Linked DNA regions of Homo sapiens. The protein of the gene in region 1 interacts with the protein of each later gene in a pairwise test. Each region holds a gene or a part of one and is shown on either strand. Other genes may lie near its edges.

Evidence for each region. Proteins that work in one complex are often made in the same cells at the same time.
Region 2: the proteins of FA2H (region 1) and ARMC12 interact in binary tests that used the Homo sapiens proteins (3 or more experiments, as listed by UniProt).

The regions. Positions count from the first base shown.
Region 1 is NC_000016.10:74,712,444-74,715,831, forward strand, and holds the end of FA2H (fatty acid 2-hydroxylase), read right to left. Parts: intron 1,827-3,388; coding exon 1,747-1,826; 3' UTR 526-1,746; downstream 1-525. UniProt on the Homo sapiens protein: Catalyzes the hydroxylation of free fatty acids at the C-2 position to produce 2-hydroxy fatty acids, which are building blocks of sphingolipids and glycosphingolipids common in neural tissue and epidermis.
Region 2 is NC_000006.12:35,732,164-35,740,053, reverse strand, and holds the start of ARMC12 (armadillo repeat-containing protein 12), read right to left. Parts: upstream 3,023-7,890; 5' UTR 2,946-3,022; coding exon 2,783-2,945; coding exon of another isoform or gene 2,702-2,782; intron 2,056-2,701; coding exon of another isoform or gene 2,028-2,055; coding exon 1,882-2,027; intron 1,671-1,881; coding exon 1,536-1,670; intron 1-1,535. UniProt on the Homo sapiens protein: Essential for male fertility and sperm mitochondrial sheath formation. Required for proper mitochondrial elongation and coiling along the flagellum during the formation of the mitochondrial sheath.

The DNA.
Region 1 (3,388 bases):
CTGTTTTAGGAAAGTCGACTGGAAGCTCAGTTGGGGTTAGATAAACTCCAGAAGAGATCCCTCCCCATTGGCGGATCAAAGTGGTTTGTGGGCACAATGCATCCCAGGTGCAGGCAATAAGAGGAGATGCTGTCTGCAGAGAATTTAGAAACAGAATAAAGCTGAGTGAGAGAATAAGAGTCAGTCAGCTTTCTCCTTTTGTTTTGTTTTCTTTTGTCTTGTTTTCTTTTATTTTTAGAGATGGAGTTTTGCTATTTTGGGCAGGTTCGTCTTGAACATCTGGCCTCAAGCGATCCTCCCACCTTGGCCTCCCAAAATCTTGGGATTACAGGCATGCACCATCGCGCCCAGCTGAGAGTTGGTCAGCTTTTAATCATCACCATGCCCCAGCAATTCTACCCACCCTGGTCAGGGCTAGAATCTCCCTCCCTGGGGACCAATCCTCTGCCCCTCTATCCCTCCCCACACCACTGCCCCTTCCCAACCACGAGGGAGTCTGATGAACAACTCATTTTTGTTGGTTTCTTTTCAGTGTTTTATTTTTCAAAATATACAATTTAAGTTTTTATTTCACAACCGTAGTTTTGTATATTTATTCCAAAATCTTTAAATAGCTCCGCAGCAAACAGTACAAATCACAAGGTCCGTCAAACTGCTTCTCTTTAGCCTTTACACTTGGCGAGTTTTTTAAGTTTCAAGTAGTAATGGTTTGTGGGTAAGAAAGGAACCAAAAACAGGAGGAAACAACATTTTTTACATAAGCTCAACATGTAGGATTAGAAAGGGCCGTCTGACCAGCTCCTTGGTCTGGGACCAGACTAAGAACATGTATCTGGTTTATAAATAAGACCGTCCTGGGAGCAGTGAGGGTTTTGGTTACGAGGAGGAAGGGGCAGGAACCTCATCTGCGGAGGCTGGGAGGCAGGGGGAGGTGAGGCACTGAGAGGTGGCTCCTTCTGGGAGCGCCCGAGTAGGGGCCTGAGCGGGGTGGAGGCCAAGAATGGCCAGGGACGGGGTGGGGCTGCCACTGGTGGAGAAGCCTCCTCAGCCTCCCTTGGGGAGAAGGGCTGTGATTCTGGAGGCAGGGGAGGGACGGCAAGAAAAGCTGCCAGGTCCTAAAGCAAGCAGCTGGGACTCCTGCCAGCCACCCTGGGCCCAACGACGCAGGCAGCTGGCAGGGCCAGAGGGGCTGCCCCAGGGTCTGGGGTGGACTGTGGGAGGCATCACGCTGTCTCTTCTTGCGAGAGCTCTTTGTCCACCTCAGAGCCACCAAAGCCTCCCCAGAAGGGACAGCAGGGAGGACAGGGACCACAGATCCCACAGACCCACTTCTGACTGTGAAAGCGAGCTGTGCCGTGCAGGCAGCTCCTAGGCAGCCCATGAGGCTAAGGCACAAGGGTGACACAGGTGGCCACGAGGGCTCAGTTTTCTTCATTTCCCCTTGCGGCTGCTACCTGTGGCCACGGCCTGAAGCAGTCCTGTGGGCTGAGCTCTAGGCAGGGACGCTCCAGGAAGAAGTGGGTCACCAAGGGCCACCTGGCCACCAAGTGGATGTGACCCTCCTACCAGGGGTCAGGAGGGCGGTCCTGCCTCAGGGCCCCCTCAGCACCTTCCACTAGGCTGCAGGGCCGGACACAGCCCATCCTGCCTGGCCAAGCCAACCTTCTTAATGGGGTCTGAATGGCGGGTGGGGGTCGGGAAGGGGCCAGGGCCGGGCTGAGGGCAGGACGGAGGGGGTGGGAGTTGTCACTGCGTCTTCAGGTGGGGTTTCTCTGGAGTGAGGGTGTGGAAACAGTAATCCCACAATTTAGTGCTGATACCAAATCCTAGAGAGGGAGACAAACGGGGAGAAGATGAGGCATTGAAGGAGCAGGCGTGCGCTGGCTTGGGAAGGGTGCCAGGGTAGGGATAAGAGGTGGAGACAATGTCAATATCTGTCCCCTTGGCCTTCCCAACTCCCGAGGCCATTCTGGCAGAAGTCAAGGGTGGGGAACCTGTGTCTTTTATTGTCCCCAGCATGAAGCTGGAATAAACCCTAATTCCTTATCTGGCCTTCGTTTCTAGGCTACGTGGCCCCCTCCCACCCCCCACCTCCATCTCCTTCCCCTTCCTTGGGGCCCAAGTTCATTCCTGCCTCAGGGCTTTGCACCAGTCGCTCTTGGGACGCCAGATGCTGATTTCTCTTCATTAGGGTCTTAGCTCTAATGGCACCTCTGCAATGACACCTGGACCATTTAATCTCTTTGCTGTCCAACTAGCCCTTAGCCACACATGGCTACTGAGCACTAGAAATGTGGCTAGAGCTCCAGAGAAACTGAATTTCTAACTTCATTTAATTCTGATGAATTAACATGTCAATGTAAAAACTGATGCTTGATTGAGTTACTGGAATTTTTTTTTTTTTTTTTTTGAGATGGAGTTTCGTTCTTGTTGCTCAGGCTGGAGTGCACTGGTGTGATCTTGGCTCACTGCAAGCTCCGCCTCCTGGGTCCAAGAGATTCTCCTTCCTCAGCCTCCTGAGTAGCTGGGATTACAGGCGCGCACCACCATATCCAGCTAATTTTTTGTGTTTTTAGTAGAGAGGGGGTTTCAACATGTTGGCCAGGCTGGTCTTGAACTCCTGACCTCAGGTGATCTGCCCGTCTCGGCCTCCTCAAGTGTGTTACCGGAAAATGTTTAAGCATGTTTGGAGCAACTTACCTATGTGAACTACTGTTTGCAAATTTTATAAAATCTAGATATGGATCTAGTATTTCTAATGAAACTTTAGTATCTGAATTGAGATGTGCTGTAAGTACAAAATACACCTTAGATTTCAAAGACTTAGTATAAGAGTTGCTAATTATTTTTTTTTAAAGAGACTTTACAAAAAGGGTCTCACTCTGTCACCCAGGCTGGGGTGCAGTGGCATGATCATAGCTCATTGCTGCCTCAAACTCCTGGGCTCAAATGATCCTCTTGCCTCAGCCTTCTAGGTAGCTGAGATTACAGGTGCATATCACCACACATGGATAATTAAAACTTTTTTATGTAGAGACAAGGTCTTGCTATGTTTCCCAGACTGGTCTGGAACTCCTGGCTTCAAGCAATCCCCTGCCTCCGCCTCCTATAGTGCTGGGATTATAGGCCTGAGCCACTGCGCTCAGCCATTAATGATTTTTTAATGTTGATTACATGTTGAAATAATAATTTGCTTATGTTAAGTAAATGTTATTAAAATTCTTTTCATCTGTTTATTTTCATGTCTTAGTGTGGCCACTAGAAAATTTAAAATCACATATGTGGCCCACATAATATGTCAGTGGAAATCGCTGGACCCTCCCCCACCTATGTGATATTCCATCACCTTGCTTTACTTTCTTCTTCTTCTTCTTTTTTTTTTTTTTTT
Region 2 (7,890 bases), on another chromosome or scaffold:
GTGTCCTTTGTTACTGCAAACCAACCCTTTTTGGTCACAACAGAGCTTATGCTAATGAAGTGACTCCAGGCAGGGTCCTTGGATAGCTTCTGGTTGCCAGAAAGACCAAAGCATGATTAGAAGGTTGGGATTTTCAGTTTTGCTCCCAACTTCTGGGGAGGGGTGAGCAGCTGGACATGATTTAATTCATCAAGACTACATAATAAAAACCTCTGACCAATGGGGTTCAAAGAGCTTCCTGGTTGCTGAACGTGTGGAGGTGCTGGGAACAGCAGGGCACTCCTGAAGTGAGCTTGTGGCAGGCCTCCATAACAACTGTTTCAGTACTGACTGCGTGGTTAAGTTAAATGTTAAAAGCCAGTGCCCTTATACAAAGGCTGGAATGTAACAAAAGCCCACCAGGAGTTTTGCCTAGGCCTTTCCTGGGCCTTAAAGCATGACAAAATTACGAAGGAATTCTTAATGGGACCCATTTAGGATTAAACAAGTTTTACTGTGGATCTGAAGAAACGCCACAGGTCTCCACAAACAAGTTTATTGGGATCTGAAGGAATTCCTCAAAACTCCTTGATTTAGCAAGAGACAAAATAAGGGTAATCACCCCAGCACCTGGACCCATTTAGATTAAGTAAATTTACTGAGGCTCCAGTGGAAGGTCTTCAGGACTCAGACCTTAGTTATAAATTAAAAGAAGTTAATCACGTCTTTAGATGAATGCACATTTACACATAGACATATAGCTTAGAAGGTATATAAGTTCTGAAAAACTTTGTAATTTTGAGTTGGTCCAGCGATAATTTCCTGGCCTTCTCCCTGTAACCGGTTACAGAAATAAAAACTCTCTTCCTCCCCAGTTCATCTGCATCTCGTTATTGGGCCAGGAGCAATAGCAGCCCAGCCCTCAGTTTGGTCCAGGAACAGGCCTGGAAGCTCCGCGCCCTGACACCCTGCCCTATGTGTCTCCTCCGTTTAGCTGTTCCTGAGTTGTGTCCTTTATATAAAAAACCAGTAATAGTAAGTAAAGTCCTTTCCTGAGTTCTGGGAGCCATTCTAGCAAATTAGTAGATCTAAAAAGGGAGTTGTGGGAACCCCCGAATTCATAGCGGGCCAGTCAGAAGTCAGACCTATGATTGGTACCTGAAGTCGGGGGGAAGTCTTGGGGGACTCAGCCCTTAACCTGTGAAGTCTGCCCTAACTATGGATAGTGTCTGAACTGAATTGAATTGTTGAACACCCAGCCAGTGTTGGGAATTGGTGTCAGAAAAAACGTGGCAGTGGTAGGGAGCTTGTGGGGTAGTGGGGGTCCTTCTCTTTGGGGTTGAGAGATACCACTAGTGCCTCAATTCAGTTTCATCCTGAAATTCAAAGGCCTTCATGACCCTGCTGGGAATCTGACCACCGTTTTCCCACTTATTTCTGGGTTACAAATTCACACCCAAACAAACTTCTGGAACATGACCATTTATCCTATGGCAATTAAAGGACTTAAGGACTATAGACATCCTGCATGCCCCACCACGCATCCCTGGGCTCACCTGGATTTTGAGCCTGAATTTTCTGATGCCAGAGAAAGCTTTAAGTGTATTCAGAGCTTGGGTTTTGACACTGTTGTCCTTGTCATCCAGCATGTAGCCCAGCAACACGATGTCATCCGTAGTACAAGCAGAGGCCTGGAGTATTGGGGAGAGATGGAAGAGGCAGGAGAAGCGGGTGTTCTGGGCCCACTGCCCCCCATGTCACCAAGATCCCTCCGCACACCCCCCCCCCACCGCTATCAGCCAGAGAGAGGTCCCAGGATATAGTCTGGCCATTCCAGGGGCAGGGATCGGCCGTAACCCCCAGGGGCCAGGCCGGCTAGGGGGGACCTCCTGCTTCCCTTACCTCAGCCTCCAGCAAGTACACACAGCGAGTGATACTGTGCAGGATCATGCTCTTGGCATACTCATCCTGTTTGCACTCCAAAGAGTTGAGGAGCCTCCGGAGCTCACCTGAGTCCCGCCCGTGCCGCTCTCGCTCGACTGCCAGGCCTAGACAGCCACCCCAGCCCAGTTCAGGCTGTGGACTCAGAAGTGATGAAAGAATGGGGTTGGGAAGTAGGGGACAGGGACTTGGGGACAAGGCTGCCTTGCCTTTTCGGAGAAGCCTTCTCGCCATATGCAGGACCACCATGTACAGTTGAACGAATGTTTACTGCACAAGGGCACCCTATCTAATGTTGTATTGTCCATAACGTACCATCATAGATTTGTCCATTTACTCTAACAACTGTCTGGCATATGGCGGTAACAAGTAGTATTTCATCATAACCAGTATGTGGCAATGATATTCCAGCAGATGGCAATAAAGAGTCTTGCAGAAGGGGCTCATTTTCCTACTCTGCACAAAAGAACATGTGGACTAGTGGAAGCTCTGGGCATATAGTAAGTCCTCCAATCTTCCCTTTCCTTAAAGCCTCACGTTCCTAGGGCAGAAAAGGGATGGGGGGAGCTGCCGACACCAAGTTTCCAAGAAGTGGAATCCTGGGAGCCAGAGGAAATGTAGTATTTGGAGACCTGCCAGATGAGTCTGAGGATCCACTTGAGTGAGATCCAGGGACCCTGAGCTAGCATCTCTGGCAGGGCCTTGCCTAGGACGCTGCAGGGTGGGCTTGAGGAAGATGGACAAGAGAAAGACAAAGGAAAGAGGAACTTGGAGGCATCACCTTTGGGCCCTCCCACAGCAGAGGCCTCGGGAGCAGGTGCCTCCTGGGGCAGAGCCCTCTCCCCAGGGCCCGGACACTCACGGGCGATGCAGATGGGTGAGTTGCTACAGAGGGGTGGTTTGCATTTTATGCCAGCCTTGATGGCCTTGTAGAGCAGGTAGATCGCCCCGGCGCCTGTGGCCAGGCTGACTACGCTTTTGCGGATGTCCAGTTGCCCCAGGTATTGGGGGATGCTCTTGCCCATGTCTTCAGTGTTGCCCTGGGCCCAGGTGAGAGCTAGGCCCAAGGCACCTGTGGGGGGCCTTCCGGAACCAGAACTCTGGCAGGGTCAGGAACCAGGGTACCAGAATTGGAACCTAGGCAACAAAGGAAACTGGGGAGATAATGGGATGGAGGGCAGTGGTCAGGAAATGGGGCAGCCAGGAGTGCTCGAGAACAGATGGGGCCAGGCACCATGGCCCACACTTGTAATCCCAGCACTTTGGGAGGCCAAGGCAGGCAGATCACTTGAGGTCAGCAGTTCGAGACCAGCCTGGCCAATATGGTGAAACCTTGTCTCTATTAAAAATACAAAAAAATTAGCCAGGCATTGTGGCGCACACATGTAATCCCAGCTACTCAGGGGACTGAGGCAGGAGAATCGCTTAAGCCTGGGAGGTTGAGGTTGCAGTGAGCTGACACGCCACTGTACTCCAACCTAAGCGACAGAGCAAGACTCCATTTCAAAAAAAAAAAGAGAAGGTTCTGCTTTAGAGACCACAGGAGATGAAGCATAAGACAGAAGGGGAATAAAAGGGGAGAGGGCAGAAGTGTCCTTCACATCTCCTCTTCTTTAAGGGGGGACCCCAGCAGGTAGCTCCAGAGGCTGCCTTTCCACCATTAGAGGGCAGCAGAGGTCCATTTCCGGGCTGGGGCCTTAGGGCATTTCTGGGTGAGGTGTTTGGGGTATGCCCATTGACAACCCTGTTCCTTTTCTTTCCGGGCCCTCCCATATGTGATCTCTCCACCCTAGATCTACCCCTGGGCCTTGGGGTGTTTCTTCAGGTAGGGTTCCCTCCCCGCATCAGAGGATGAAAAGGAGGGGAGTATCTTAGAAAGCATGCACAGACTCTTGAGGCAAATCCACCCTTTTCCAGCATCTGCATGTTGCCCTGAAGTTTACCTGTTTGACAAAGTGCTCTTGAGGACAGCTACCTTTGCATCTCCAGCATAGAATCTTGTACTTAGCAGGTGGTTTAAGTCATGTTCTGCCATTCTTTAAGGACTTGGCGGCAGAACAATGACAGCATCTAGTAACTGGGGCTCCAGACCCTTCTAACCAGAGTGACCTTGGAGGAGAAAGGGATCGCCTTTGCCTTAGTCTGTTTCTGCATTTGTAACCTAAAGGGATTCGGATTTACCATTCTAAAACTCCAGGATTAAAATGTGGGTAAGTCTGTGCCTTTCAGCTAAATTTGGAAGTATCACCTCTCAGCCTCCCCAGGGATATGAGGCGGCTTGTGAGGTCCTCTGGAGTCAGAAGATGCCACCACCCCAGAGGATGTGAGCCCACCTGTGGAGGTCTTGATCCCCACCACTAGGATGGGGCAGGTGAGACCAGACCCTTCCCTCTTCCCCACCAGGGTCTCCCCGCAACTTCTGTCCCCACTCTCTGTTGCAGAACAGGCAAGTGGCCAGCTCCAAACTAGGGCCACGCCCACAGCCAGTGCTGAGCATGCTGCACCAGAACAGGTGTTCACCTACCTGGCCCTGATCCCTTTTTGGGAGAACTGGGACAGAAGGCTCTGGGTCCTGGGCTGCACCCAGGATGGAAGGAGGTAGGGAAACAGCATCTCCAATGATGCTGCGGCCAGCCAGGCCTGCCCACTCAGAGCCTTGGCCCAGTACACCCTAGGCAGCAGGCAGGGAACAAGCAACACTCCTGGGTGGCCATTCTATTCCTGTCCTCAGCCCTCCTCAAGGGTCATCATTCCTGGCACTCTATTTAGCCCCAAGGTGGGTGACTACATGAACTCCCTGTGGTGAGGGGTGAGTAGAAGCCCATGGAAGCCTCCCCACTGCCATGCAACCCCATCGCATCTCCACTGAACTCCGAGCAGAAAACGGCTGCCTGATGGGAACTGTCATTTAGGTTCCCAGGCTACTTTGGTGGATCTGAGAATAAATCCCTCAAGACAAGGTCCTTGCTCTGCCCTTCTCCAGGGTGGGACCCAGAGTTACTGGCCCCTCCATCCCATGGAGCCGATTCTGCAACCCTCACTTCCTAAGCACAGGTAAGGCTCACCTGTTCTTTAAAGACCTCCAAAAAGTGTTCTTTCTTGGCTGCAACCTAACTCCCTCCTGCCACACCTAAGGCCCATTTCTTCTGGTTCTGCCTTCAAATGATTCAGAGAGATTAGAGGCAGAGTCATTCCTAGAGTGACATTTTTACTAGTCCACAGTACAACAAAAAAATTAAAGACAAAGGAATGTCTATTTGTTGGCATAAAGTCCATTGACCATCTTTTCTTGGGAATAATTGTTTTCTTTCTTTTTTTTTTTTCTTTTTTTTGAGACAGGTTCTCACTCTGTCACCCAGGTTGGAGCGCAGTGGTGCGATGTTGGCTCACTGCAATCTCTGCCTCCCAGACTCAAGCAATCCTCTCGCCTCAGCCTCCCAAGTAGCTGGGACTACAGGCATGCGCCACCACACCAGGCTAATTTTTTGTATTTTTGGTAGAGACAGGGTTTTGCCATGTTGCCCAGTCTGGTCTCGAACACCTGAGCTCATGATCCGCCTGCCTCGGCCTCCCAAAGGGCTGGAATTATAGGCACGAGCCACCGCGCCTGGCTGGAACTAACAGATTCAGATGATGTCACTCCTATTTTGAGAATTAAAATGTATTTTCTTAGGTCAGGCGTGGTAGCTCACACTTGCAGTCTCAGCACTTTGGGAGGCTGAGGCGAGTGGATTGCTTGAGCCCAGGAGTTCGAGCCTGGCCTGGGCTGAAGCAAACCCCGCCAACCCCCAACAAAAAATACAAAAATTAGCTCAGCATGGTGGTGCGTGCCTGTAGTCCCAGCTATTCTGGAGGCTGAGGCGGTAGGATTGCCTGAACCTGGGAGGCAGAGGTTGCAGTGAGCCGAGATCATGCCACTGCACTCCAGCCTGGGTGACAGAGCCAGACCCTGTCTCAAAGAAACAGAAGTATTTTCTTTAATGATGGTGATAATAGATCGTAGGTATGTTCTCCATGCCCTTAGGGAGCGTAAATTTAAAGCTGCAACTCTTTATGGGAACCTGGCTTTCACTTGTTTTCTGGCTTTGTTTTTCTGTCAAATCCAGAAATCTGGAACCACTGGTTAAAAAGAAGTCTGAGAGCCAAAATACACACAGCCAGCTGTGAGTTACTACCTGCCTTACCCAGGAAAAGGACATGAGCTGCCCAAGCACACACCTCTTTGCCATCTATGCCAGCATTTTTACCTTCAAGGCCGATGTTCTCATCGTGTTAAGTACATTTGAGTTTAGTAAGTAAGTATGGGTTCTAGGCAGGGTTCAAAACCAGTTCAGGGCTGGGCGCGGTGGCTCACGCCTGTAAACCCAGTACTTTGGGAGGCCCAGACGGGCAGATCACAAGGTCAGAGTGGCCAGCCTGGCCAACATGGGGAAACCCCGTCTCTACTAAAAAATACAAAAATTAGCTGGACGTGGTGGTGTGCATCTGTAATCCCAGCTACTCAGGAGGCTGAGGCAAAATTGCTTGAACCCGGGAGGCGGAGGTTGCAGTGAACCGAGATGGCACGACTGCACTCCAGCCTGGTGACAGAGCAAGACTCCATCTCAAAACAAACAAACCAGTTTAGTCATGGACTTAGCTTTGTGATCTCCTTGTGCCTCATTTTCCCCACCTGTAAAATAGAAACAATAAGACTTACTTCATGGGATTGTTTGTGAGGATTAAGTAAAGCACTTGGAACAGTGCCCAACACACAGAGCTCAACAAATGTTTACTATAATCCTAATTATCTCCGCAGGTTTCACCTGGACAACATGTGGGGCGTGGGCAGGCAGTGAGAACACAGATGGTAGCCCTCGAAGCATCCCAGCCTGAAAAGCACATGAGTCAGCCCTTCCTTCCACTTACCCACTACCTCTCACGCTGGTCGTCTTTTTTATTTTTTCTCTCTCTCTCTTTTTTGAGACGGAGTCTGGCTCTGTCACCCGGGCTGGAGTGCAGTGGCGCCATCTCGGCTCACTGCAACCTCCGCCTCCCAGGTTCAAGCAAGTCTTGTGCCTCAGTTTACCAAGTTGCTGGAACTACAGGCACGCACCACCACGCCCGGCTAATTTTTGTATTTTCAGTAGGCTGGATTTCACGATTTCGGCCAGGCTGGTCTCGAACTCCTACACTCAGGTGATCCGCCTGCCTCGGCCTCTCAAAGTGCTGGGATTACAGGCTTACGCCACCACACCAGGCCTCCCTGGTCTTCTTAAAGTCAATCAATCCCAACTCCTGTAATCCATGTAACTGCTTTGAGTGACTCTGGAGCCATCTTTGAAGCCCCCACAAATACCTAAATGAGGAACAGGAGCCCTGCAACACATTCCCCTAAACTGTGTTCCTAAGAACCATCCAACTACCTGTGGAATCCTAAGGCCCCTTCCTCATTCTCTTTACCAGTATCCTGGCAATGGTTGTTTAAGCCTAGTTAATGACAGAAGCTCCAGACAGATACTGTTGGGGGTCCTCTACGAAAAGACACCGCCATTCCCGAGGGTGACGCTGCAGCGGCCCAGCACTTGTGCGCATAGAAGCTAAGGGGAAATTACCCTACCCTAAACTCCAGTGAAAAGCCCTTTGCAGTCCGACAGGCTTGCATTCACATCCCAACAGTGTGGGGTTTGGACAAATTCCATAATCTGAGTCTGTTTCCTCCTCTAGAATGCGAGTCTATGAATTCCTGTCTACTGCCTGGAAGTGCCGCTGTCAGGACTGAGATAATGTGTGTACTTTCGGTGCACAGGGGACGCTCAACACGTGCGAGCTTCCCTTGCAGAAAGCCAAGAGATGAAAGGCTGGGGGCCGCCCCTGCCTTAACGTGGATCCCACACTCTCCGAGATCATCTCCCCAGCTAGCGCTTACTCCTGCCCAGGAACCAGATCCTGGGGCCTCCGGGTAGCTCAGCCTAAGGCGCGGGGAGCAGA